7 linked regions of the Homo sapiens genome follow. The protein of the gene in region 3 interacts with the protein of the main gene of each other region in a pairwise test. Each region holds a gene or a part of one and is shown on either strand. Other genes may lie near its edges. The genes, in order: TMIE, FAM221A, NBPF19, PHLDA1, P2RX7, STAC and FADS2.

Region 1 (4,151 bases), on a different chromosome or scaffold from region 3:
GTCTAGGGACATGGTCCACCCTGGGTGTCTAGGGGACACGGTCCTGCCCTGGGTGTCTAGAGGACACAGCTCTACCCTGGGTGTCTAGGGGACACAGTCCTGCCTAGGTCTGAAGGGACATGGACCCACACTGTAGAATTTGAGTAAGATCTGTCCCTGACCAGAGATGGATATGACCCCATGTCTGTCACTTAGTGTGGCTGAGGGACAGGGAGAGGGGTCTGTCCTCTGAGGGAGAGAGAACCCTGGGGCATATGAGCGAGATGTTGTGCACTGATTACTAAATAAGGACAGACACGAGAAGTCCCTTCTGGTTCTCTGAGAAGAAAGGCAACCTGTAGTTCGACCATCCAGCCCTTCTTCCCCCAGGTCCGTAAACATGGATTAGGCATCTGTCATGAGCCAGGCGCTTCTTCATCTAGTGAATGCCACCCTTCAGCGTGGGTTGCAGAACTCAAGAGAGGATCAGCAACCTGTCCCAGGTAACCCAGAGGATCTGTGGGCTGGGATTGGTACCTGATTCTCAGGCTCTTTTCTCCCTGCCAGGGTGAGCTATTGACAAGAAGACACCATTCCTCAGTACTTTCCCCTGGATATATGTGTGGGGTCAGACATGTACATAAAGTTGGGGAACATGTGTGAGGTTGGGCACATGTGTGGTTGGCATGCATGTGGGTGTGGTCAGGGACATGTCTGTGCCATTAGGGTTAGGGCCCTGATGGTGGCAGCTGCCCTAATTCTAAGGCTCAATGTGTTGGCCCGGCTGGTTGTATGACTGGAAGACTCTGAGGGCCATGGCAAAGTTCTCAGGTTCTGAGCCAAGGCAGCTCACTTCCTACACATTCTTGCCCCAGCCCTGATGTGGGTGGAGCTGGGCCTACTCTTACTGATAGGGGTCTTGGGTGGACGGCAGCAGATGACAGCTGGTCTTCTCCTCATGTTGGGCCCTGCTGGGGTCTGATTTCTGGAGCATGGAGGTCCCCACCTCCTTCAGAGCCTCACGGGCTGATGGAGGGTGATGGTGACCCACACAGGGCTAAGGTGGGTGGTGACATGGCCCCCAGCCCTGCCCATGTCTTTGGTGCTTCCGTGAGGGAAGAGCTAAGGCCTTGCTCAGACTGTAGGCAGATGTCAGGCAGATGGCCTCCAAATGCAATTTCCCTAGAACTGGGAAAAGATGAGTTCCTGGGGGTGAGGGAGAAGAGTCCTTGGCTGAGAACTGACTTAACCCCCACCCCCAGCTTTCTGTCTGCACCTAGGCCAGCTCAGTTTCTGTACCCAGGCCTCAGGGCAGCCTGTGAGGGGCCCAAGTACGCCTCACAGGGCTCAAGCCAGCATAGCTCCCCTTACAGGGACACTGGAGCTGACACCTGACTCTAGCCCAGCCTTGTGGTCATGCCCTCTGGGCAACAGCAGGGACAGGCTACATCTGGGTCCAGGGCTCTGTCCCTATGTCCCCATCAAACCCTCCAGTTCAGGGCTGTGTCCCCCCATAACAACTTCCCCATGGCTCTGTCCTCTCTATCCCACACTGTCCCCAAGCCCCCACCCCTCAGGACTTCCCTGGGCACCTCTCACTGCCTCTTGCATTTCTGTTTTCCTGCTCCCTCTGGTCCGCCCCTGCCTGCACAGCCTCCATCCCCTGCTCCTCCCTGGCCCTGGCTCCTGGGCCTTCTCCCTCTGGCCTCACAATTCAGAACTCTAGGTCTGGTCTGCCAGCTCCCTCGTTGGCTCCCCTTTCAGGCTCCGCAGGAGTGGGGTACAAGGGGGTTAGGGAGGCTACAGATGGCCCCACCCTTCCTGGCCCCAGCCAGGCTCTCCACCAGGGCTCTCCCCCAGCTTCTGTGCTATCTCAGCAGCTCCTCCCACCTCTCCCACTGTGTGCCTGCTCCCAATTTACCCTCCTTCCAAACCAGAACTCATCATGACTTGTCCCTGAGCAGAAACCTTCTAAAGCTCCCGGTTATCACCAGGACCAAGTCAGACTTCCCAGTCCCTAGGTCCTGCCCTGCCTGCCCCTCTGGACCTAGTGCTCCACATAGCTTCTCTGTAAAGGGTCTCCTCATCCTGCTGCCCCCACCCTCCAACTTGGAATGCCCTCGTCTCCATCTTAAGGCTATGTCTCCCCCTCCATTAGACAGGGGTCCCTGGAACATCTCTGGAGATAGAGGCTGTTGCCTCCAGAAGACCCTAAATTCAGGGTCTGTTCCATCAGACTAGAGGTCCAGGAAACCCAGGGCTGTGCACCTCCCTGCCAGTGAGACCAAAGGCTGGAGGATGGGGGCCCAGTATCCCCCATCAGTCTGGGCAGGGCTGTGTCCCCAAGTCAGGCTGGGAATCCCTAAGGTCAAGGTGAGTCTCCCCCGTCAGACTAATGTTCCAGAAATCGGGTACTGTGCCCTTCCATCAGACCAGGGACCCTAAGAGTGGGGCTGAGTCTCTCTCACAGCCTGGCAGGGCTTGGGGCAGGGCTGCATCGCCCGGGAGACTGGATCTCTCAGGGCAAGAGTAAGGGATCAAACAAGCTCCGGATCAAAAAGGCGTCCCCTCTCCCCCAGCCCCCTGCCTGGAGGGTGACAGCCTCCCCAGTCCCTCCGTGCCGCGGCCTCACCTCCACCAGCTGCCCGGCAACCCCCGCGAGGCACACCCCGAGTGCGGCGCCGCCCAGCACGCAGAGGGGACCCGCGCCCGGCCACCCCGCCATCTTCGTGCCACCGCGCCGCTTGCGGAGCCCAGGGACGAACGGGCCGGCCGCCGGTCACTGCCCCTGCCAGCCGGCGCTCGGTGGCCACGGGCTTTGGCCACGGGTAGTCAGCGAGCATCATTTATTCATCCTCGGTGTCAGGTTCCCGCGCCGCCCGCCCCCGCCATCGCTGCGGTGGAGGGCCCGCCCCCTCCTTCCCGGGAGATCGGGCCGCAGGCTCCCCCTCCCTGCCCCCACCTTCCGCATCCCCAGGGACACTGAGGTGGGGGTGGGCGGGAGGGAGGACAGGCTGGGGCCAGGTCCCTAATCAACAGGTCCCCCTCCCTTCTGCAAATGGGCCTCAGTTTCTCCATCTGGGACAAGGGGGTGGGACTGGAATCTGCTGATCTAGGAGGCCCTTCCCATTCTGTCATGCTGGATTTGAAAAATATACTGGATTTGAGTTTGGGGGGGGGGCAGAGCGGGCAGGTTGCCATGGTGACAGGCGCTCAGGGATGTCCTGGGCTTTCTGGCTTGGCTTCCTGCCCAGAGGCGGCTCTGGTCACCCTGGACACCAGAGCTGGAGAGCAGGGGATGGTATGGTCAGAGCTGCCAGCCGGCAGTGTTATGGAGGGTTCCAGAAGAAGCCAGCATCTTCAGCCCCACAGGACAGAAGTGGGCTGTCCCTGGAAGGGCTGGAGGACCATTTTCTGACCCTGGCTGCCCTCAATCTCTGCCCCAGCCTGAACACTGACTCTGACTTCAGTCTAAGCCAGGACCCTGACCTCATGCTGAAGTTGACCCACACTGCACTCTGGCCCTGACCCCATGTTGAGCCTTGACAACTGAGGGACAGAGGGAGGTTCTGAGGAGATGTAGAGACCTGGGTGGGGGCTGAAGACTTAGGAAGAGGAGTGGGGAGGCCTGGAGTTGGTAGACTCCCCTTCCCTCCTTTTCTTCCTTCCTTCTATTCTTATTTATCTCCTGCTGCTGAGTGTTAGGAGAAGCAGCCCAGGTGTTGGGCCCCTGGAACCCTTATCACCAGGGGCACTGGTGAAGGCCTGCGCAGGCTGGGGATGGCCCAGCAAGGCCTGCCCTGAGAACCAGGGAGACCCTGTGGCTCCAGAGCCCTGTGAGGTTCTGGCCTGGACATGCCATGAATGGGCAAGGACCACAGCAGGCTGCAGCAGGGAGCGGAGGGCCACCTGCGGTCACCTGCCAGTGTCAGGGCCCGGAGATGACAGCCAGGCAGGAAAACGAGAGCTGTTGGAGAAGGACTGCAGCCCAGGAGACCCATCGAGGAAACGCTCAACAGTGGGAGGTAAAGTCTGGGGACTGAGTGGGCTGGGCCACCCAGTCCTCCCCAGGCATGCCCTGGCCAGGCAAACAGGAACTCTGCTAAAATCCAAATCACTTGTTGCAGCACTCCAATCCCCACTTCCTCATGCTGCTGGTCACAGGCCAGGCT
Region 2 (2,976 bases), on a different chromosome or scaffold from region 3:
TATTGAGTTGGCCACTGCTATGGGTGACTGGAGCTCAACGATAGGACTTTCTGAGGAAGTTTATGAAATGCATTTCAGAATTGTCTTCCCAACAGACGGGAGAGCACTTATGTATTGGGCTTCCACCTCCCATTAATCAAGAGTGGCCCCAAAGTCACTAGCTCCCCAACATCTTTGGGCTGCATATGTATCATACAGTGGGGTTCTAGTGGGCATCCCAAGCCACAGTGTCAGAAGATCCCTGCAGAAGGAAGCAAGAGAGCCATGACATGCGCCCAAGACAAGGTGCCATCAAATGGCTTCCGCTATCAGAAGCCTGCTGGAAAGTGTTCCACAGCAGTAATGGAGTAAGAAACGGGGCCAAGAGGATTTGCAGTGGCACACAAGATGTGTCCAGTACAGTCATAGACAATGGGTGGTTGACAACACAACGTAAAAATCAGTAGATATCTTCAGCCTGAGAAAGATTGAAAAAAAAAATCAGTAATATCACTAGAAAATGGTTGTAAAATTTTGAGATAGTTTTTATTTGAAAACATAACATTACAAAGTTTGAAAAATAAAAAAATTAATGATTTTAACTATTTTTTTCTTTTGTTCTCTTGTTTTTAACTTACTATTTTGAATGACAAAAAAATGGCTCATATGTTTGTCCAAAACCCTTGATAATATCTTTAATTTTTTAAATACCTGAAACAGTTAAATTATTATGTACTAAAAACATTTACTGTACTCTCAGACAGACTCATATAAAATAACCTCATTTGTCAGGAGAAAGAAAGGTACATACAAAGTAGTAAATTATGAGTTTTGACAAAAGTAATAGGCATTTTTAGTTATTTAAATAAATTAAGGAAACATCCCAAAAGACATTTATACAGTAAAAAAAAAAAGTAAATAATTTCAGGAAAAATAAACTGTATTATTACATTTAAATAAACATGAAAAAGATACTTGGATGATGGTTTTAATTTCTCCAATAGTCTTCATGAAGGTTTTGTAGCTGATGGCAATGGAGCTTTTCCTTTCCACTTAGCAGCCTTTTCCATTTTCATCTGTAAATTTAACATATTTATTGATATAATAACTTGTAAACCATTCTAAAGAAAAAAAACTTGCAGAAAACTCATTCAGATTCATGTCACAGCCATTCCACAGTTATTAAGCTGCTAAATACTAAAGCCAAAATCTGTTAAAGGGACATAATTACACATTTTCAGATGGTTTTATTTTAATTTTACAGAAGCATTTTAATAAAAGTAATATATGAATATTGCTTTAGAGAAAACAATTTCAATTGCCACTAAAATTACAAGTGCTTAAAATGACTAAACTTACATCCAGCCTATGCACATTCCCTACAGAGTTACATAATGCACCTAATCCAGCTGGATTCTCTCTGGAACGTGGACTGCTTTAAGGATAGTTTTCTATAATTCTGGTTTCTATATTCCCACAGTTACCTTTCTGAAAGTCTTTTCCTCCTCCATTGTAGTTAAAGCAAAAAAGCAGCCACTGTGCCCAGATGTGTATTGGGTAATTTTAACGAGTCTGGATACACCTAAAAGCCTCTAAGAAGAATAAATAATACATATTAAGAATTCAAAATAGGCACCAGGCGCGGTGGCTCATGCCTGTAATCCCAGCACTTTGCGAGGCCGAGGCGGGTGGATCACGAGGTCAGGAGATCCAGACCATCCTGGCTAACACAGTGAAACCCCGTCTCTACTAAAAATACAAAAAATTAGCTGGGCATGGTGGTGGGCGCCTGTGGTCCCAGCTACTCGGGAGGCTGAAGCAGGAGAATGGCGTGAACCCGGGAGGCGGAGCTTGCAGTGAGCCGAGATCGCGCCACTGCACTCCAGCCTGGGCGACAGACCAAGACTCCGTCTCAAAAAAAAAAAAAAAAAAAGAGAATTCAAAATATATTCAATCTTTATTTGGCAAATATTTTTAAATAAAAAATAAAGGTACATGTATAAAAAAAGAATTCAAGATACATATAATTTACAAATCTGCTGATATTGATGTTTATTACTGACAATTTTATCTGCGTATTTATCCAATCTTTATGGCCTTCATAAATCAACCAGTGTATTAAATATCATGTTATTCTTTAGCCCTGTTTCTGTGTATTCTAATAAGCCTCAAGGCCTAACACCAACTGTAAGTAAAGACTTTATAAATTATTTTCAAGGATGTTCCACATTCAATGTATAATCATTCTAGTGCTTTTGCTACAAGTAAATGCTTAGTGCAACTGAATTTCCTCAAAAACCTACCCTTTCCTGGTATCGTCTTTCAAAGAAAGCCATATCATCCTCTTCAGGTCTCCTTAATGAAGAAACTTGACTACTTGTACCTACTAACAAGGAAAAAAAATCTAAGTAATGTATTTATATCATTACATATTCCCCTGAAATAAAAGAAAGAAAAGTTTTCTCCTGCTCGGTGATAATGTTTTATTTTTCAAACCAAAAATGGCCTAAATGAATAATTGGTCCTACTACCTCATTCTCTTTTAGAGAGAATGGCATCACAGGACAAAAGTGTTTTTCACTAGCAAACATTCTCCAAATATTCCACAGTTCATATTAAATAGCACCATATAGCTATTCCGTATAAGAGTACACTTAGTTTTGTCCAACTACTTTTTACATTTTATAACTAGAAATCCATGTTACACTTTGAGATAATGCACAAAAGTAATTATTGAGGCTTGGTATAGGCAACCATAAGTAATGATAGTACCTGCTTCAAAATCTTTCAAAACTGAACTATTTTATCCATTTTTTACGGTAATCACTTTGTCAAATGGATCAAGCACTAATTTATATGCTGAAAGGAACTTTTGAAATTGCTTCAGTAGGAAAACATCTGGTTTTCTTGGCAGGTAGCCAAGAGCCTAATTGCATAGAAAAGTACACCTTCATTGCGAGTGAAGGTCTTCACTGGGTCCCTTCATTTCCAAAGCAG
Region 3 (3,500 bases):
GGTGCCACTGCACTCCAGCCTGGGTGACAGAGCAAGACTCCATTGCAAAAAAAAAAAAAAAAAAAAAAAAATCCACGATGCTACAAAGAAACATTGGATCAGCCATTGCATTGACAGGGTGGAGAACCAGGGTCCAGCCTTGCTTTATGGAAATATATCAGCAAAGTAAAGAAGAAAAGTTTCCGTCCTGATTTCAGGGTGACTGTGCAGCTAAGCAAGCTGACTTAAAGGAGATCCAGATGAAAGCTGAGAGCAGTGAAGCCTGGGGAACAATATTTCCAAATACAAAGGCAAGGCTGCCAGCTTCCTTAAACAGGCATAGAAACTCCATGGACATTGTTCAGGGACAGATGACTTAATCACAGATGACAAGAGATACTGAATCGAAGATAGGAGGCCTGACAGATACTGCCTGTGCACCTCCTGCACTCAGGTGACTATGAGATTGTCACACTTGCCTGGGGTTGAGTAACTTGATACTGGGGACTGGCAGACAAAGTCATGACATTAGCTGAGAAGGACAAAAAAACTCCCTGATATCTGTTTAGAAACCCATCACAGTTTTTTATTCAAATGAATTTGTGTTTATAGAGCCTGTCTTCAGAGTTTATCTTTCTCAGCCTAGAGAGAGGTATGAGACACAAGGAAAACAGAGGCTACCTGGAATAATGTGTACAGCATCCTCCCATTCAACATGAGAGGATGAGCCAATGAGAGTTGAGTCGACTTTGTCTTCCTCAAATGTGATTTTGGTTTTCCTATGTGGCTGGTTGGAGTCATAAGGGCCATGGCTATTTGAATAAGTGATGGCACATTCCTCCAGTGAGTCCTCAGGGACTTCCTTTTCTTCAGCCTTCTGCATCTCCCTGATGAGCCAGGTGGGACAGAGATGACAGAAGATTAAACACAGAGGGATTGGACCCCAGGGAGTCCTAGCTGGTTTTGACAGGCGGCATTAAGAGAGTGGTCCCAGAAAGCAAAATGGAGGTTCCCATTAAGAGGGAACATGCAATCCTGTTCTCTCTGCAACAGAGCATGGCTGCCATGGGAACCAGAGAGGAAGAGAGCAGCTGCTGTTCATTGCACTGGACAGATAGGAGCTGAGGAGGATGAAGACTCAGCTATCCCTGTAAGGTGCAGACATGACACTCAGCACACATAGAGAAACATGACAGCTACCGCACCCTGTGTCTAAGCTGGATTATATTTCACATACTGTGGCCAAGCGAATGCGGGTTTTTGGCCCATCATAGATGCCAGAGAGGGTGTGCCTCCTAGATATTCCTCATATGTTACCATCCATTAATTGTTCCTGAGTATTCAGTGTTACCTGGGGGCAGACGATTTCTGCACTTTCTCAGCCACCTCAACTTGAACATCTTCATCGTCATCGTTGTCATTTTCTGTAAATACAGAAGTGTTCGTTCAGATATTTCCCACTTCACAGTCTGCAAGCACAGTCAGCCCAATGTGCAACAGAGACATGAACATCTAGGCATGGGTCACCGTTCAACTGAAAACTCTCATGTTTTATCTTTAACAGAATGCCCTGCCATGGTTTCCTGATCCATCAGGCAATGCATTTCTGATCTGGAGGGCCACCATCAAGATGTGGCCAAATATTGAAAAGACCTTTTGCTTCCCATATCACTGGAGGCTTGTGCAGCCTCTCTCTGGACGTTGGCAGCTGTCTCCCCCATCCTGCCAGATCTGATTCCCAGGCACAGGCTTGGTGTCCTGTCACGGTTTGCATTTCAAACCTCATTCTTTCTCTTAGGAGAGGACAAACTTGTCCCACAGTCCTCTATGCGTCATGAGACTGCACAGGCCCTCCATGTGGCTTCTGCTGTGTTATTCAGGGACATTCTATCCATGGGGAGTGCTCCAGTCTGAAGCACTTCCTACCACCAAATGCCCCCACATCAAGTGCCTTCTCCAACACCACATGGAGAGGGGCTTCATCTCATTTTGAAAAGCATTCGTAAGTGTTCCCATATTTGGATGCTTCAGACCCTTGCAAGAGACAATTTGTCTGCCTTTGCAGATGGAGAGAGAGAAACTCTGAAAAGATAAATCACTCACTGACACTTACTAAGAACACTGCCAAAAATACAGCCTGGGAACCTTCATTCTTAGCCCAGAGCTCTTTTCACTCCAACAAGCGCCCTTCCATCACAGCCTCCTTCCTGTCCTTTAAAACTAGATAGATGCTGCCTCTTGCTCCAAAGACCACCTTCCATCAAGGAAGGAGGGACACTTGCAATACTGTGACCTCCAAACCCATGGGTTTCCCATCTCTGTTCTTACCCAGGAAGTCCTGATCATGTCATGGCCACATAGGTGTAGTAGAAAAAAACCCCACTGATATAACTGTCATTGTGAAAGTATGGAGGTCTGGAGCCTCTCATAAGCCTGGGGTTTTGGGTCATCAGGGCCTATGGCCACCTTACCTGGGCTGAGCTTTTGGACAAGGTGCTGTGCCAGTCTACACCCCTCAGCCAGCTGTTCTTGGAGGTCCTGCCCCTGGGACTTGTCCGGCTCATCCGGAGTGAGGAGGGCCTGGAGATGCTCATTCAATGAGCGGGAGGCATCTCTCCCTTCCCGTAACTTCTCCCTTAACTGGGTCAGCTCTCGTTCCTGAGAGTGAAACAGGACTTTATATTGCCTAAGGTGAGACGGTAGAGAAAATTTAAGAGTAGAAAGGGTTGAGTGATCCGTTCAAATATTGCAACAGAGACTTCTGAGACAATGTCCTCAAGGAGACCTCCAAGCAGAAGGTCAGCACATGTTGAAAGGAATGACTGTGGCCAAGAGGAAGAATAGAAAATGGTCTACAGGCTTTCCCTCTATCAGAGAGGGCTCCTGCAAGATCCTCGATGATGTTCCATTCATCTTTCTCTTCTGTAAACAAAAGTAGGTGTCTTCCTAATTCCGTTTCAAAAAGACATCCTTTCAGTTCCTCACTCTGGCCATGGACATTTCCATGTGAAAATACACATAGTGCATCTTGCGGCCACTAAATACAAAGCCATGTACAGAAATGAGGCCAGGTGCAGATGGGGCGAATTGAAAAGATGAAAGAAGAAAAGAAGGACAGGGTCAAGAAGGCAACATTGATTGAGTGAAAGAATGAGAAGACGCAGTCAGTCAGGAGGTGATTCTCACTAAGGGTAAGTGGGGTGGTGATAGCACACCATTTTGATTATACTGAATGCTGCTGGGTGGTTCCCACTCCTTTGGTGAATTTTGTGTTATGTAAATTTCACCTCAACAATTACTTGTTTGAAAAAGAGAAAACAAGGCTCTAAGAAACAACTGCAACACAGAACTTATTATTATCCTTGTTCACTGATAAATATTTGTGTGTCATGAGCCTGTCATGGCAATTTCTGCCCTTCCCCTGGCCCAGCTTCGTTCTTATTTCTCCCCGCCGAGCTGCTGTACTTCAGAGATCTACACACCTACCCGCCTGCCCTCCCCCCACGGGGTCCCCTCACCTG
Region 4 (3,589 bases), on a different chromosome or scaffold from region 3:
CCTATTTTAAAGTCTTTTGAGATTTAAAGGCTTTTAGATGCCAGTGGAGATTGTAAGAATAAAGTTATGCTATTTTTCTTTAAAGAATCAAGTCCCTCTTCTGCTTTCAACACAAAATAGGAAGGTCTATGAATACCGTTTGAAGGATGACTCAGAGACAAAGCTTTACCCTCCCAAGAGACATAAGAGAACTAGACTACCTCTGGGACTCAAGAGGGTATTGCTGTTGAGCTGATTCACTAGGAACTGTTTCTGGTCCTCTGGGAAACTATGGAAAATTCAATTAAAGTTCATTAGCATTCTGAAAGCTAATTTTTTCACCAACATACCTGAGCGAATTTTCATATTCCAAATTCCCAGTGAATTTTTTAAAAGATGAATTCCCAACCTCAAAAATGGTCTTTTTTTTTCCCAGAATGCCCAAGCAATTCAGAATCTCTGTTTCACAGGAACACACAATGCATGTGCCAGTTGAACAAGGCCTTCAAAAGGTCCACAGGTCGGTTGTCTCAATAGATAACTTTATTTGAAATGAAATGCATTTTGAAAATATGAAAAATAAATCACATCTCCCCAAAATCATCTAAGAGACATATTTACACAAGTTCTGACCATGCTAAAAAATTCATGAATGTGATGGTGTATAAAGCATTTGGTACATGATGATACTTGCTTTCCAGAAGCTGGCATTTGCATATTATAAAACGTTAAGAAGAAGGCTGACCTCGGAATGTAACAGACAATAGTTTTATGTTTCTTCTCAATATACAGTGACCTGGAAGGACTCCCTGTTGTTAAAACCTGCTTCCCCACTGCTCAGCCTGCCATCAGCCATCCAGCTGCAGAGCAGTGGAGAGTAGGTCTCACCAGTTTTTGTGCAGATGCTTCTAACCCAGAGTCCTTCTGCTTACTTCATTGGACAATATTGCCCTTTCTAAGAAAACCCTTTTAGATCCTGTACTCCACTTAGCAAATGCCCTGCCAGCAAAGTCACAGATGACTTTTTTACCCAATCTTAGGTAAATCTGGATTATCTGCCCAACCGTGCAAGTCAATAAGCCACCCTTGAAAACTGTGTCAAGATTTGAGGAAACAGGTCTTAAGAACCTATCCAACACATGATTCCATAACCAATACATCTTAGGTTGTTTTAGGCAAATAGGTGTATCTCTTGAATCACTGATGGATTCAATATCAAGATCTATAATTTTCACGTTTAAAATTTACTCTGCCGAGGACATTTTATTGGTAAAGCAAAAACCAGTTAGTTTGACACACACGAAAAAGAAAACAAATGTTCACAGTCCTATCTTCGTAGGATTCTGTGCTATAAAATTGCTCCAGGTTCAAGTCTTAGACCACTCTTCTAAGGCTGCTACTGAATATAATATTAACACTGGAGCCAAGCTAAAACTACATGACTTTTCCCCTAGGGACAGAAAACAAGGGATGTGTTTGAACTCATACACTTGCAGCAAACTTTACTGTCAGATATAAAATTAGGGCTTTCTCTTAAAGGGCTTCTTTAAGAGAAATACAGAGTGTTTGGTATATGAGAGAAAAAAAGTTAAAACAGGACTTTCAACTTAATCCAGACTTCCTAACAGTGTTTACATGTGAGGGAAACTCCTTTAAGTAATGCGTAGTTTTTATTTTTACCATCATTGGAGACAAAAAAAACAAAAACATAAACATCTGAAGTGAAATTATAAAGATGGCTTGATTTCTACATTAGAGAATCCCAGCTTGCTCAATGAGGAAAATGTTCATTTTAAAAGGGCCCCTTATAGACATTTGCTCTTTGACGTCAGCACTCCCCATAGAGCACACCCAGATCTAAATGGATTTCCACTAAGAAAGTCTGTTTAAGAAACTTCATCATGATGTTTAGCCTGTCCCAGAATTCATTGTTCTCAGGGAATGACATGAGAGCAAAGAAAAGGAACACTCAGTGAGGCAAGAGACAGCATCTCCCAGATGCTGGGAAGTTACACATTTTGTCCTTCCTTCCTTTGTCCCAACAGTTATTGAGCTCACTGTGTATGAGGCTTGGTGCCAACACAAGTTCAAGGACAAAAGTTCAGTTTCCAGATGGAACATTACTCTTAATTTTCCAACTTTTTACATTTTATGTTTATTTAAGGAGCGGGTCTTCTATTGGATCTGCCCTTTCGGTTGAAAAATGCATTTTTTACCTTTTTCCATGAAGCTGATTTGTCAGGCTTCAAAATATCTTAGGTGGTTTTGTATCATTTTCTTACAGGTAGAATAGAGCCACTGGGACATTAAATGATGTACATTTATATTTTGTTTTGTTTAGTCTTATTGAGCGTGTTTGCTTTTTTGCTCTGGAAAAATTATTAATAATAATTTCAAAGGTGTCAAAACAATAAAAGCCATTCTACTTCTAATTTCTTAGATTTCACATTAAATGCTAAGAGGGGTTCAGAATAGAAAATGATAAAGGTCAACATAAATATCACAGCAGACTAAGGAACAAGGGCTACAGAAAGTCAAGAAACCATTATTCTGGGGCCGGGTGTGGTGGCTCACACCTGTAATCCTAGCACTTTGGGAGGCCAAGGCAGGTGGATCACCTGAGGTCAGGAGTTCGAGAACAGCCTGACCACTATGGTGAAACCCCATCTCTACTAAAAATACAAAAATCAGCCGGGCGTGGTGGCATTCACCTGTAGTCCCAGCTACTCAGGAGGCTGAGACAGGAGAATGGCGTGAACCCAGGAGGCAGAGGTTGCAGTGAGCCGAGATCGTGCCACTGCACTCCAGCCTGGGTCACAGGGCGAGACTCCATCTCAAAAAAAAAAAAAAAAAAAGAAACCATGATTCCGGTGGCCCTATTAAGAACCATGGCCACCACGGGCGAAGAAAAAGAAATCCAGCCACCAAGAGGGAGCCTAGGCGCATCTTTTTAAGCAATGAAATTACCTAGCCCCATATGTAAGCTAACAACATACAAATGCCTTTTTTAAAACCTACATCAATCTTAATTTGTAAAAATATTTGGTATGGATTTTTTTTTTTTAGTACAAGAATTAAAAAAAAATCCTCCATTGGGAAAAAACTGTGGTTCATTTGGAGCTATTATGATTTGCATGCATTAAAAATATAGTACTATGAGGTACTCCTCAAAAAGTACAGCCACAGTTCTAAGGAAGCTGAACCAAACTTGATTTAAGAAATCTTTAGATGTGGCTCTCATTTCATATACATATATACATACATACACATATATACATATTCATATATGTGTACACACATGTTCTCATATATGTATATATACATACATATTCATATATGTGTATACATATATACATATGAAACAAGTTTTTAAATGTTGGCAGCATATTTTCACAACTGCAACCTAAACAACCACTGGAAGTGGGGGTCCACTTAAGTTTTGTTTGCCATTAGCTTAATAGGGGAAAGCTATTTTAATTTTCCCTGCAACTTTTTGGATATGAGTTATGATCTCAAAATGTCATTTAACTATTGCACTAAAAAGTAATTTGACCTTGGAACTCCTTTCTAGATGGAAGGAGAATAAAGACATCTGTAGCATGTAATTCTA
Region 5 (4,071 bases), on a different chromosome or scaffold from region 3:
TGAATCGAATAATAATAATCCTAATAATAGCATTATTAATAATAAGAACTAACACTTAATCAGGGATTACTATATGCCATATATTTCTCAAACAGCTTTGCATTTATTAGTTCATTTAATATTCCTATCAACAATTCTCCCCATTTTACAGATGATGAAACCAAGGCTCAAAGAGGTGAAGGATTTTTGAATCCACGTTTCCAGATTTCAAATCCTGAACTTGGACGTGGTTACTTTGAGGGTCAGAGCAGAGGATATAGATAAAAATACATACATGTATTTTATATACATATATACTATTATATAATCAAAAAAATTATTACTATTATTATTATTTTGAGATGGAGTCTTGCTCTGTCACCCAGGCTGGAGTGCAGTGGCTTGATCTTGGCTCACTGCAACCTCCGCCTCCGGGTTCAAGCGATTCTCCTGCCTCAGCCTCCCTAGTAGCTGGGATTACAGGTGTGCACCACCACTCCCCACTAATTTTTGTATTTTTAGTAGAGATGGGGTTTCACCATATTGGCCAGGCTGGTCTCAAACTCCTGACTTCGTGATCCACCCGCCTTGGCCTCCCAAAGTGTTGGGATTACAGGTGTGAGCCACCACTCCCAGACTTAAAAAGATTATTTTTAAAAATAGATACTAGTTATGGAGCTCTTATCCTATGTCAGTCATCATGATAAGGGCTGTTCATGCCTTTTTTTTTTGGTTAATTGCCACAACCCTATGAACAGATGCAGAAACTGAGGCTCAGAGAAGTTAATGACTTGGCCCAGAAGACATAGCCAGTACTATGAAATAAGTTACCCTAACTCTTAGTAAACTACACTGCCACTCTATAGATACAAATTGCCTTCATCATCATTATCAATCAGCACAGAGAATAAGAGGCACTCACCATCAGGGAAATTCAAATCACAACCACAATGAACTACCACTTCACACCCACTAGCATGGCTATAATAAAAAAGACAGACAATCAGCCGGGCGTGGCGGCTCATGCCTGTAATCCCAGCACTTTGGGAGGCCAAGGTGGGCGGATCACTTGAGGTCAGGAGTTTGAGACCAGCCTGGCCTACATGGCGAAACCTCATCTCTACTAAAAATACAAAAATTAGTGAGGAGTGGTGACGCACACCTGTAATCCCAGCTACTCATGAGGCTGAGGCAGGAGAATCGCTTGAACCGGGGAGGTGGAGGTTGCAGTGAGCCAAGATTGCGCCACTGCACTCCAGCCTGGGCAACAGAGCAAGACTTCATCTCAAAGACAAAAACAAAATGACAACAACAAAACCCAAAAAGACAGACGATAACAAGCGTTGGTGAGGATGTGGAGAAATTGGATCCCTCATACTCTGCTGATAGGAATGTAAAAAACTGCAGCTGCTGTGAAATTCAGCTCCACATTCCCCCCAAAGGTGAAACATAGTTAACATATGACCTAGCAATTTTTACTCTTAGGTACATATTCGAGAGAAAGGAGAATATATATCCACATAAAACCTTGTACACAAATGTTCATGTGGCATTATTCATGATAGCCAAAAAAGAGAAACAACCCCAATGTCCATCAATGGATGAATGGATAGAAAAAAGTGGTCTATCCATGCAATGGAGTACTACTCAGCCGTAAAAAGGAATGAAGTATCAGCCGGGTGCAATGGCTCACGCCTGTAATCCTGACACTTTGGGAGGCCGAGGCAGGCAGATCACTTGAGTCCAGGAGTTTGAGACCAGCCTGGACAAAATAGTGAGACCCCGTCTCTTTAAAAAAAAAAATTGAATGAAGTATCAACACATGCTACAACATGGATGAGCATTGAAAACACGCTAAGTGCCACAAAGGACCACATATTATGTGATTCCATTTATATGAAATGTCCAGAATCGGCAAATCCATAGAGGCAGAAAGGAAATTGATGGGTGGGAAGGAGGAGGAACAGTGTTGGAAATGATGGTGAAGGAGTGTGGGATTCCTTTTGAGTCGATTAAAATATTCTAAAATTGATTGTGGGGATGGTTGCACAACTCTGGGAATAATCTGAAAATCATTAAATGGTACCCTTTAAATGGGTCAATTGTATGGTGTATAAATTATATCTCAGTAAGTTTCTTTTAGAAGAAACAAAAACCAAAAAGCAGGGCCTTCCTGACGTTGGTGAGGACCTAAAGTTATAACACATTTTCAAGCCTGGTCCTATTCCTCCCAAGCATGGTGACTCAGATGCCAGCATGATCACCAGGCGTGCCCTGAGATCCTCGCCTCCTCCCTGGGGATCCAGGGTGTTGCCCTGCGCTTTCCTACCTTCCCCAGGCACGCCCTGCCCTGCGCGCCCTGGCGGGCCTGAAGTAGAGCAGAAAGGAATCCCGCTTGTCCTGTGGCTTCTCTCTGCTGCAGCCTGGCACCGTTTCCTCTTGCCTGCTGCTGCTTCCTCCCTCCCGCCCAGCTGGCTGTGAGAGCACGTCTCAGATTCGAAAACCATGTGAGATTCAGAATGTGCACCTGAAGCTGCCCGCTGGGGCTTTCTGTGCTGTCGGCCACTGCAGAGATCTGGGTCCTCCCCAGATCCCACTTACCAAACGTAGGAAAAGATGATCACGTGGAAGAACCACTTAATGGTGCCATAATTCATGCTCTGGATCCGAGTGACTTTGTTCGTCTCATACTGGAAAACATCACTGCAGCTGCAGCAGGCCGGCATGGTGACAGCCTCCCTCCCTGCGCGGAGCTGGACCAGAGCTCTACTCTTCCTGACAGGGCCACAGCAAGCCCCCTCCCAGTAACTGCAAAATGAAACGTACTGGTTTTTAGCAGGAGTCTTTAACTTCAAGCTCCTCCAATGACTGCAGAGTTGGGGCGGGCCCTGGCAGTGGCCCCACATGTGGCTGTGATAAACAAGAAGCGCCAAGTCCTACGGGCCTGGCTGGCAGATGACCTCACCCCAGCTGGCCTCCCCCAGATGCCTACACAAAGATGGTGTTCAGAGGATGGGCATTTTTAGAATTCTCCCTTTTCCCCCCTTTCCTTTCACTTTTTTGGTCTCATGTCTCTTGGGAGAAAGGGGCAGCCTTGCAAATGTCACAAGACTGGGAGCTTCCATTATGCCTCAGAAAAGGACTGAGATCTTTCCATTGCCTGAAGCCCCACTCAGAGATTGATTCATTCATTTCTACAACCCTTTATTCAGCCCCTGATGTATAGGAGCTCTGGGTAAATGAAGATCTCCCCCTCTTCTTCCACCGCCCCTTATAATACTCTGGTCTGCAGTTGGTGGGGGAAATCAGATTTGCAGGGGTAGGGGTGGTGGGGGTGGAGGGGCTTTATTTTTCTGCCAGATCTTTCATGCTTGACCCTCTGAGTTACTCTCCACCCTCCTCTGCACCCCGGCAGGTCGATCTATGACCTAGACCAATCAGCCAAAGATCACCAGGGACACAGTGGCAGTCCAACAAAGTTAGGTTTGTTGACCTATTCAGTGAGGGACACCACCCACCAGAAGAGCTACGCACATCACCAAACAAAGGAAAACAGCAATTTATTATAGGATTCCGAGGAAAGTGGAGTTGAGATAAAATCTAAATGAAGTCATGTTTTGATGGACTCAAAGCAAAACAGGTTTGTACAAAGCAGTCAACTTCAGTCTGGATTGCAAAGAGGACCCAGGGCCCTGTTTCCTAGGAAGCAACATAGCTAAGATACATGTCAAATGTGTCCAGAAAATCTTTATCTGAAGCTCTGCTCCTGAGTTGTAAATTGAGGCTGCTTCTCTGTGTCAAGATGACTTAAATCTTCCAGGCAAAATTGGAATATTTCAGTCTTAGTCATGTAATTTCAAACAGCAAAGTTTCTGAAGGTCTCTGATTTTAAAGGACAATGTTTCAGCAGTCACTCAAAGATGCAGGGTTGTATTATCACTTTACAGCTACAGAGAATTATTGTTCCCTGTTATCTTTACAGCTGGCTTGATCCCTTTCTGTTATTCCAGCCTGCTAAGTGGCCGGGTAGATTTTCAGTTTTTCAGTCTAAACTAATTGTACTTTCTCACACATACAAACTGCATCAGGGTT
Region 6 (3,500 bases), on a different chromosome or scaffold from region 3:
GCTGTAGTAACGCCGAAACCCCTTTGGCTGGAGAGAGAATGAGGAAGGCAAGGGGTTAATGTCACTGGAGATGGAGAAAACCATACAAGAGCTCCCTAAATAAAACCAATTGGTTTCTCCAGGAGCACCCTCCTGTCTCCCATTAACATGCCGACTTATCCTATAATTCCACAATTTAATCCCAGCAGGGACACAGAGGCAGGGAGGAATAGTGGCAACTAGCAAGTTACACTCTATCCAGAAAACAAGGTCCTGGCCCTGGCCTCCCCAGTCGTGTCTGTCCTCCTCCTGCAGTGCACTGCAGCCTCCTTTGCATCCCAGATCCTCATTGCCTCCTGGATTACAAGTGGACTGCCACATATTATTTCACCACAGTTTGTTATTGTGGTTTGTTAAAATAATATAAATAAAAGGCCTGGGCATGGGTAAGTGGACCTCAGAGGGAGGCCTAAAAGCTCCTGTATATCTGAAGAGCTTTAGCCAGAATCATTTGCTCTGTAATCTGGATTCTATTCTCTGTTTTTCTGACCTCTCCTTCATGGTCTGTCTTGGCTTATGGGAATCACCACTGGAGAAGGAGAAGGGGAAGCAGGGGAGGCAGAGGTTTGAGAAAAGAGACATTGCAAATCAGAGTAAATAGATAAACTAAGAACCTGGACTTGACTGTACTCCATTACTGGATGGGAACTTGGTGGCCCAGTCCCTTCTAGAATTCCAGAATCCTGTCTAATGTTCCTGGAAAGTGGTGTCCCTTGTCGTTACACTGTCAGTGATGGGAGGGGGTGAAGGAGCATTCACTAACCCTGGAAGCAAGACATTATCTTTTATTGTTAAGACTTAGTATCCACTGATCTTAGGTCTTTCCCCAGGAGCCTCAAAGGACAATGGAGTTACTCTTCTAAATTTTAGGTCTAAAATTGTTGAAGACAGCTGTTGATGTCCTGTCTAATTATTCTCTAGGGTAGACATTCTTCGTCCTTTCTACAATTCTTTGGCCATCCTAGTTTCAAACACCCTCAAATGCGCTCTGGATTGCTTTTTGAAAAAAAATTTTTGAGACAGGTTCTCACTGTCACCCAAGCTAGAGTACAGTTGCGCAATAATGGCTTACTGAAACCTCTGCCTTCTGGGCTCAAGCGATCCTCTAATCTCAGCCTCCTGAGTAGCTGGAACTACAGGCACACACCACCACACTCAGCTAATTTTTAAATTTTTGTAGAGACAGGGTCATGCCATGTTGCCCAGGCTGGTCTCGAACTCCTGGGCTTAAGGGATCAACCCACCTTGGTGTCCAAAGTGTTGGGATTATAGGCGTGAGCCATTGTGCCTGGCTTGAATTGCCTCTTAATCAATATGTGGCACCAGGACTGAAGCCCATCCTCCTGAGATGGTATGATCAGCCATCTCAAGGGCCATTCAATCTCCCTTGGTTTGGGAGATTCTGTTAAAGTGGTGCAGATATTTATTACTCTCTCCTCTTTTGTGGGGGCTTAGCTCTTGTCCTCTCTTGCTACCCACTGAGCTGACCACCAAGGAAGCACTAGAGTGACCAACCATTAGTTTGCCTGGGACTTAGGGGGTTCCTGAGATGCATGACTTTCACTTTTAAAACCTGAACAGACCCAGGATGTGGGACTTTCAGTATTAAAACTGAGAAAGTGCCAACCTGGGAGAAGTTGGTCACTCTGTTAATGACCCTGACTCCCTTTCAAGGTGGGGCATTGTTGATTGGGTTGACAAAGCCCTTGTCCTTGTTTTCTGATTACGCCAATTAGGAAGCCAAGCTGGCAGCCAGTTCTGGGGTGCTTTGCTCAGGGTTTCAGGGAAGGATTTTGGAGGGGGTGATCTCACTGCAGCAGGCAAGTGCCCTAGCAGAGAGGTGTGGGCCTCACTCCTGGCACAAGCCCTTACCAGCTTGCCCATGCACCGCTGGGGTGCCAGGCCATCTGTGCACTTGTGGTGGATGCTCATCTTACAGGCTTTGCAGCGCAGTCCATGCTTAGCATTTGTTCCTGTCAGGTACATGGCAAACTTTGGTTAGGATACAACCTGCCATTTCCTGCTGATTAGTCTAAAATCACAGAAAATGAGGTTCCCCAGGTAATTCTTTCCTACAACTTTTTCATGAAGCTTTCAAAATAGAAAAAAAATATATATGGTAGATTCTTTTGCTTTCTCCTGCATTTTCTACCTAAGGTATACACTCTGGTTTATCTCCATCTTTCCTATTCACTACTCCAGGAACTCTAAGCCTCCTCCATGCCCTTTGTTCTCTCAATTCAAGCTAGTGAATTCCATTTTCTTTGCTTTTCATGTAGGTTACTCAATTCTACTTTTCTGTGTCTTACTGAGTAGTGCAAGTCCCGAAATTTGATGTATTTTCTTCTGTATTTCTATCACAGGAACTGAGCCGTTGGATAAATTCTCAGGAAAATGACTGATTAAGGGGGAAGGGCAGGTCTGTGTGAGAGTGGGGCTGACAGTCTTCTAAAGAAGGGGAGAGAGGACTCAATCAGATGCCAACCCCAGCCTGGGGAAAGAGGAAGAAGATGCGAATGATAATGAAATTGTGGCTGCGGTGAGTCACTTAGCTTCTTGGGACAGGGTGCTATCATGGAGTGAGAAGAAAGAAGGCTGAGAAGAAAAGGCAGAGAGCCATCCTGGTATCTTCATGCACAAAGGCCCAAGGCAGGAGCACTGGAGAGGAACTGGGAGGCCTAATAAGAGGGCAGGGTGTGGGGGCTTCAGGAAGATGGCAGGTGCTGCACACCGGTGTTCATTATTTCAGAAAGTGGCTGGATAAAGCTTAAGACGGATGTTAAAATGGGTGTGTTCTGCCTTCATCTAGTCACAGACAAGAGAATGCCATCTGCTCTGATATCCCAAAGTAAGATGGTAGGTTCCCAGGCAAGTCTCAAAAAGGTGCCAAAATGTATTTTTGCCACTCTTAGATGACCAAGCATCTCATGTATTAGAAAAGAGGAAGAAAGGTGAGGTAGTGGAGAGAGTATTTCTTTGCAGAGTTGTTGAGGCACTATCAGTCTTATCCCTCCTCCTTTACCATGATGAGAAGGATGGGGTGTGCTCTGTTGTCTCCTCAGTCCTGAGAGGGTTTCAAGGAGACTATTTTAACAGCTTGACCTATGTGAGTCTGTGGGACATATGGCTGTGGCCATACCCATTCTTGGAAAAAACTAAAAATAAGAGACGTGGGTGGCCAGGGGTCCTGTCAGCCTACTGAGGAGACAGCTGTGTGAACAAGGCCTGCACTCCAAAAGATTGTTAGGAAAAGGGTTGGTGAGTCCAACAAGTATGTGATTCTCATGGATCAGATATGGATTATGTAGAATGCTATGCAAGATGACAACCTGGAGAGACAACAGGATTTCAACAAAGTAAGTCTCTTTAGAGGGGAGATACAGGAATGAATATGTCCAGGTAGTATGAGACATGAAGTCAAGATACCCCACTGTACAGCACAGCCATCCACAGACCCAAAG
Region 7 (3,500 bases), on a different chromosome or scaffold from region 3:
AGCCATGCAAACCCCGAGCAAGCAGGTGGCGTGTAGTTGCCCATTGCATTTCAGTGGGCTGCGGTCCAGCTTCTAGAGGCCTGAGTGTGAGGTGTGTGCACATCTGGGGCACGCACTTGGTGCCAGGGCAGAGGAGAGGGCAGGTTGCACCTAACTTCATCTTTCCCCGCAGGACCTGGCCTGGGCCGTCAGCTACTACATCCGGTTCTTCATCACCTACATCCCTTTCTACGGCATCCTGGGAGCCCTCCTTTTCCTCAACTTCATCAGGTGCCTGGGCTTTGCTGATTCATCCCTGGGCCCTCCACTGGCACTGATGATGGCTTTGGCATGAGAAGAGGCTCGGACGGCTCCACTTTGCCTGGGGACCTCCCATCCTGGCCCCTTGGCAGGGGCTGTCCTGGGCTGGTTGGGAGAGTGGATCTGTTCCCACTGTGGCTGGGCCCCCGGAGGCCCCTGCGCTGAGCTGTGTTCTCTTGCAGGTTCCTGGAGAGCCACTGGTTTGTGTGGGTCACACAGATGAATCACATCGTCATGGAGATTGACCAGGAGGCCTACCGTGACTGGTTCAGTAGCCAGGTAGGGAAGTCAGGGCCGGTCACCAGAGCCTGGTCCCAATGTCCATGTCCTGGCCCCAGATGATCTGCACCTGCTAACACAGGGCTGTGCTGGGCCTCCCGGGGCTGCCTGTGTCCTTTTGCTGGGAGCTTCAGGGCTGAGCAAGAAAGGGCAGCAGGAATCCCCCAGAGGGACAGGTGGGGCATCTGGGTGGGCTGAGGCCATCAGGCAGGACGGTATGATGTGGACGGGTGGCCTGGAGACCCTGGGTAAGGCTGGGCCCCCTGGGAATGAGGCCGGGCCCTTGGGCCTTCCTTTGTTCCCTGACACTCATCCCCTCCACTGACAGCTGACAGCCACCTGCAACGTGGAGCAGTCCTTCTTCAACGACTGGTTCAGTGGACACCTTAACTTCCAGATTGAGCACCAGTGAGCGCGGGGCTGCGGGGAGGCGGGGAGACCCACAGCGGGAGGGAAGTGGCCGCTATCCCACTGGGCAGAATGCAGAATGTGGGGGCCACCTCTTTGTCTCTCTGACAAGGTCTCTGCCCAATATAGAGCAAGGCTCCCAGCCAGCCCCGCTGAGGTCAGGAGAGGGGCTCCCCTATTCCATCTCCCTGAGGGTCATCCTGTGCCCCTCATGCTGTGCCACTTGGTCATAGTGGTTACCACCTCCCTCCATGTGGGCCTGGGACTTTGTAGTTATGGAGCCTGCACACGCACCTCATGACCCTGTGAGGCTAGCAGGGCAGGGCTACGTAGCTTGCCTGGAACATCGGCCGAGGGACTGCCCTGCTGCCCCTTGTCCTTGCTTCACCTCTTGTCACTGTTTTTTTTTTTTTTTATTAAAAAATAAAAAATGTAGAGACAGAGTCTCACCCTGTTTCCTGGGCTGGAGTGCAGTGGTGCTTTCTTGGCTCACTGCAGCCTCGAACGCCTGAGCTAAAGTCATCCTCCCACCTCAGCCTCCTGAGTAGCTGGGACTGCAGGTGCGTGCCACCATGCCCAACTAATTTTTTCTTTTTTTTTTTACTTTTATTTATTTATTTATTTTGAGACAGAATCTCACTCTGTTGCCCAGACTGGAGGGCAGTGGCGCAATCTCGGCTCACTGCATCCTCCACCTACCAGGTTCAAGCAATTCTCAGGCCTCAGCCTCCCACGTAGCTGGGATTACAGGCGTGTGCCACCACGCCCAGCTAATTTTTGTATTTTTTAGTGGAGACGGGGTTTCACCATGTTGGCCAGGCTGGTCTCAAACTCCTAGCCTCAAGTGATCCACCTGCGTTGGCCTCCCAAAGTGCTGGGATTACAGGTGTGAGCCACTGCACCTGGCCTAATTTTTTATTTTTATTTTTTGTAGAGAAGAGGTCTTGCCGTGTCGCCCAGGCTGATCTCAAACTTCTGGCCTCAAGTGATCTGCCTGCCTCGGCCTCCCAAAATGCTGGGATTACAGGCGTGAGCCACCGTGCCTCACCTCACTGCCTCTTTTCCTAGCATTCCCCAGCTATTTCATTTCTTTTTTGAAAAACATGACACTTTGTCTCTGGCCACCCAATATCTTCCCAGCTCCATAGAGCACAAACGCCCTCCTGCTCACGGAGGGCTGCACCCTCCCCTCCACACACGTGGCACCCCACTGGGCACACACGAGGAGCCACACTTTGAGACTGGTCCTGGCTGTGGACAGGGTCTCTGAGGGCCCCAGCCAGCCTCTGCCCAGGTGGTGGGAGGAAGCGGGAGCAGCATGGCCCTCTGAGTCCTCACGCTCTGCCCACCCTACACACTCCTCAGCCTCTTCCCCACCATGCCCCGGCACAACTTACACAAGATCGCCCCGCTGGTGAAGTCTCTATGTGCCAAGCATGGCATTGAATACCAGGAGAAGCCGCTACTGAGGGCCCTGCTGGACATCATCAGGTGAGGGGTGGAGGTCCACAGGCGCTGGGCCCTGGGATCACCCGTGGTGCAGACAGTGGGATCACAAGAGGGGCTGGGCCCTCCTGGCACAGTCACCCACCAGGGCACCTGCCTTACTCCCGAGCCTGTGTTAGGAGCTGTTGGGCTTTTCTCCCTGGGCTGCGAGAAGACCATCCCTTTCTGTGTGGGGTTCCTGGTGGGCTCTGAGCTGACAGCCCCACAGGCCCAGTGGCAGTGGTAAGCCCTGGTTAGGGCCAAGGGGACATACATGCCACCTTAATGATGGCCTCCTCAGCCCTTGCACTCCCTGGGGCCACTCCCGTCCTGGTCCCTGACCCTGGTCCATCCCCAACTTTGCAGGTCCCTGAAGAAGTCTGGGAAGCTGTGGCTGGACGCCTACCTTCACAAATGAAGCCACAGCCCCCGGGACACCGTGGGGAAGGGGTGCAGGTGGGGTGATGGCCAGAGGAATGATGGGCTTTTGTTCTGAGGGGTGTCCGAGAGGCTGGTGTATGCACTGCTCACGGACCCCATGTTGGATCTTTCTCCCTTTCTCCTCTCCTTTTTCTCTTCACATCTCCCCCATAGCACCCTGCCCTCATGGGACCTGCCCTCCCTCAGCCGTCAGCCATCAGCCATGGCCCTCCCAGTGCCTCCTAGCCCCTTCTTCCAAGGAGCAGAGAGGTGGCCACCGGGGGTGGCTCTGTCCTACCTCCACTCTCTGCCCCTAAAGATGGGAGGAGACCAGCGGTCCATGGGTCTGGCCTGTGAGTCTCCCCTTGCAGCCTGGTCACTAGGCATCACCCCCGCTTTGGTTCTTCAGATGCTCTTGGGGTTCATAGGGGCAGGTCCTAGTCGGGCAGGGCCCCTGACCCTCCCGGCCTGGCTTCACTCTCCCTGACGGCTGCCATTGGTCCACCCTTTCATAGAGAGGCCTGCTTTGTTACAAAGCTCGGGTCTCCCTCCTGCAGCTCGGTTAAGTACCCGAGGCCTCTCTTAAGATGTCCAGGGCCCCAGGCCCG

Evidence for each region.
Region 1: the proteins of NBPF19 (region 3) and TMIE interact in a two-hybrid assay, tested with the Homo sapiens proteins (one large-scale study listed by BioGRID).
Region 2: the proteins of NBPF19 (region 3) and FAM221A interact in a two-hybrid assay, tested with the Homo sapiens proteins (one large-scale study listed by BioGRID).
Region 4: the proteins of NBPF19 (region 3) and PHLDA1 interact in a two-hybrid assay, tested with the Homo sapiens proteins (one large-scale study listed by BioGRID).
Region 5: the proteins of NBPF19 (region 3) and P2RX7 interact in a two-hybrid assay, tested with the Homo sapiens proteins (one large-scale study listed by BioGRID).
Region 6: the proteins of NBPF19 (region 3) and STAC interact in a two-hybrid assay, tested with the Homo sapiens proteins (one large-scale study listed by BioGRID).
Region 7: the proteins of NBPF19 (region 3) and FADS2 interact in a two-hybrid assay, tested with the Homo sapiens proteins (one large-scale study listed by BioGRID).

What each region holds. Positions count from the first base shown.
Region 1 is NC_000003.12:46,700,041-46,704,191, reverse strand, and holds the start of TMIE (transmembrane inner ear expressed protein isoform 1 precursor), read right to left. Parts: upstream 2,801-4,151; 5' UTR 2,705-2,800; coding exon 2,612-2,704; intron 1-2,611. UniProt on the Homo sapiens protein: Auxiliary subunit of the mechanotransducer (MET) non-specific cation channel complex located at the tips of stereocilia of cochlear hair cells and that mediates sensory transduction in the auditory system.
Region 2 is NC_000007.14:23,700,175-23,703,150, reverse strand, and holds the end of FAM221A (protein FAM221A), read right to left. Parts: intron 2,366-2,976; coding exon 2,283-2,365; intron 1,056-2,282; coding exon 987-1,055; 3' UTR 501-986; downstream 1-500.
Region 3 is NC_000001.11:149,478,045-149,481,544, reverse strand, and holds part of NBPF19 (NBPF family member NBPF19), read right to left. Parts: coding exon 3,498-3,500; intron 2,666-3,497; coding exon 2,451-2,665; intron 1,404-2,450; coding exon 1,331-1,403; intron 867-1,330; coding exon 661-866; intron 1-660.
Region 4 is NC_000012.12:76,024,947-76,028,535, forward strand, and holds the end of PHLDA1 (pleckstrin homology-like domain family A member 1), read right to left. Parts: 3' UTR 501-3,589; downstream 1-500. UniProt on the Homo sapiens protein: Seems to be involved in regulation of apoptosis. May be involved in detachment-mediated programmed cell death. May mediate apoptosis during neuronal development. May be involved in regulation of anti-apoptotic effects of IGF1.
Region 5 is NC_000012.12:121,131,605-121,135,675, reverse strand, and holds the start of P2RX7 (P2X purinoceptor 7), read right to left. Parts: upstream 2,801-4,071; 5' UTR 2,706-2,800; coding exon 2,581-2,705; intron 1-2,580. UniProt on the Homo sapiens protein: ATP-gated nonselective transmembrane cation channel that requires high millimolar concentrations of ATP for activation. Upon ATP binding, it rapidly opens to allow the influx of small cations Na(+) and Ca(2+), and the K(+) efflux.
Region 6 is NC_000003.12:36,481,504-36,485,003, reverse strand, and holds part of STAC (SH3 and cysteine-rich domain-containing protein), read right to left. Parts: intron 2,013-3,500; coding exon 1,912-2,012; intron 28-1,911; coding exon 1-27. UniProt on the Homo sapiens protein: Promotes expression of the ion channel CACNA1H at the cell membrane, and thereby contributes to the regulation of channel activity.
Region 7 is NC_000011.10:61,862,800-61,866,299, forward strand, and holds part of FADS2 (acyl-CoA 6-desaturase), read left to right. Parts: intron 1-172; coding exon 173-270; intron 271-482; coding exon 483-579; intron 580-907; coding exon 908-987; intron 988-2,352; coding exon 2,353-2,478; intron 2,479-2,838; coding exon 2,839-2,890; 3' UTR 2,891-3,500. UniProt on the Homo sapiens protein: Involved in the biosynthesis of highly unsaturated fatty acids (HUFA) from the essential polyunsaturated fatty acids (PUFA) linoleic acid (LA) (18:2n-6) and alpha-linolenic acid (ALA) (18:3n-3) precursors, acting as a fatty acyl-coenzyme A (CoA) desaturase that introduces a cis double bond at carbon 6 of the fatty acyl chain.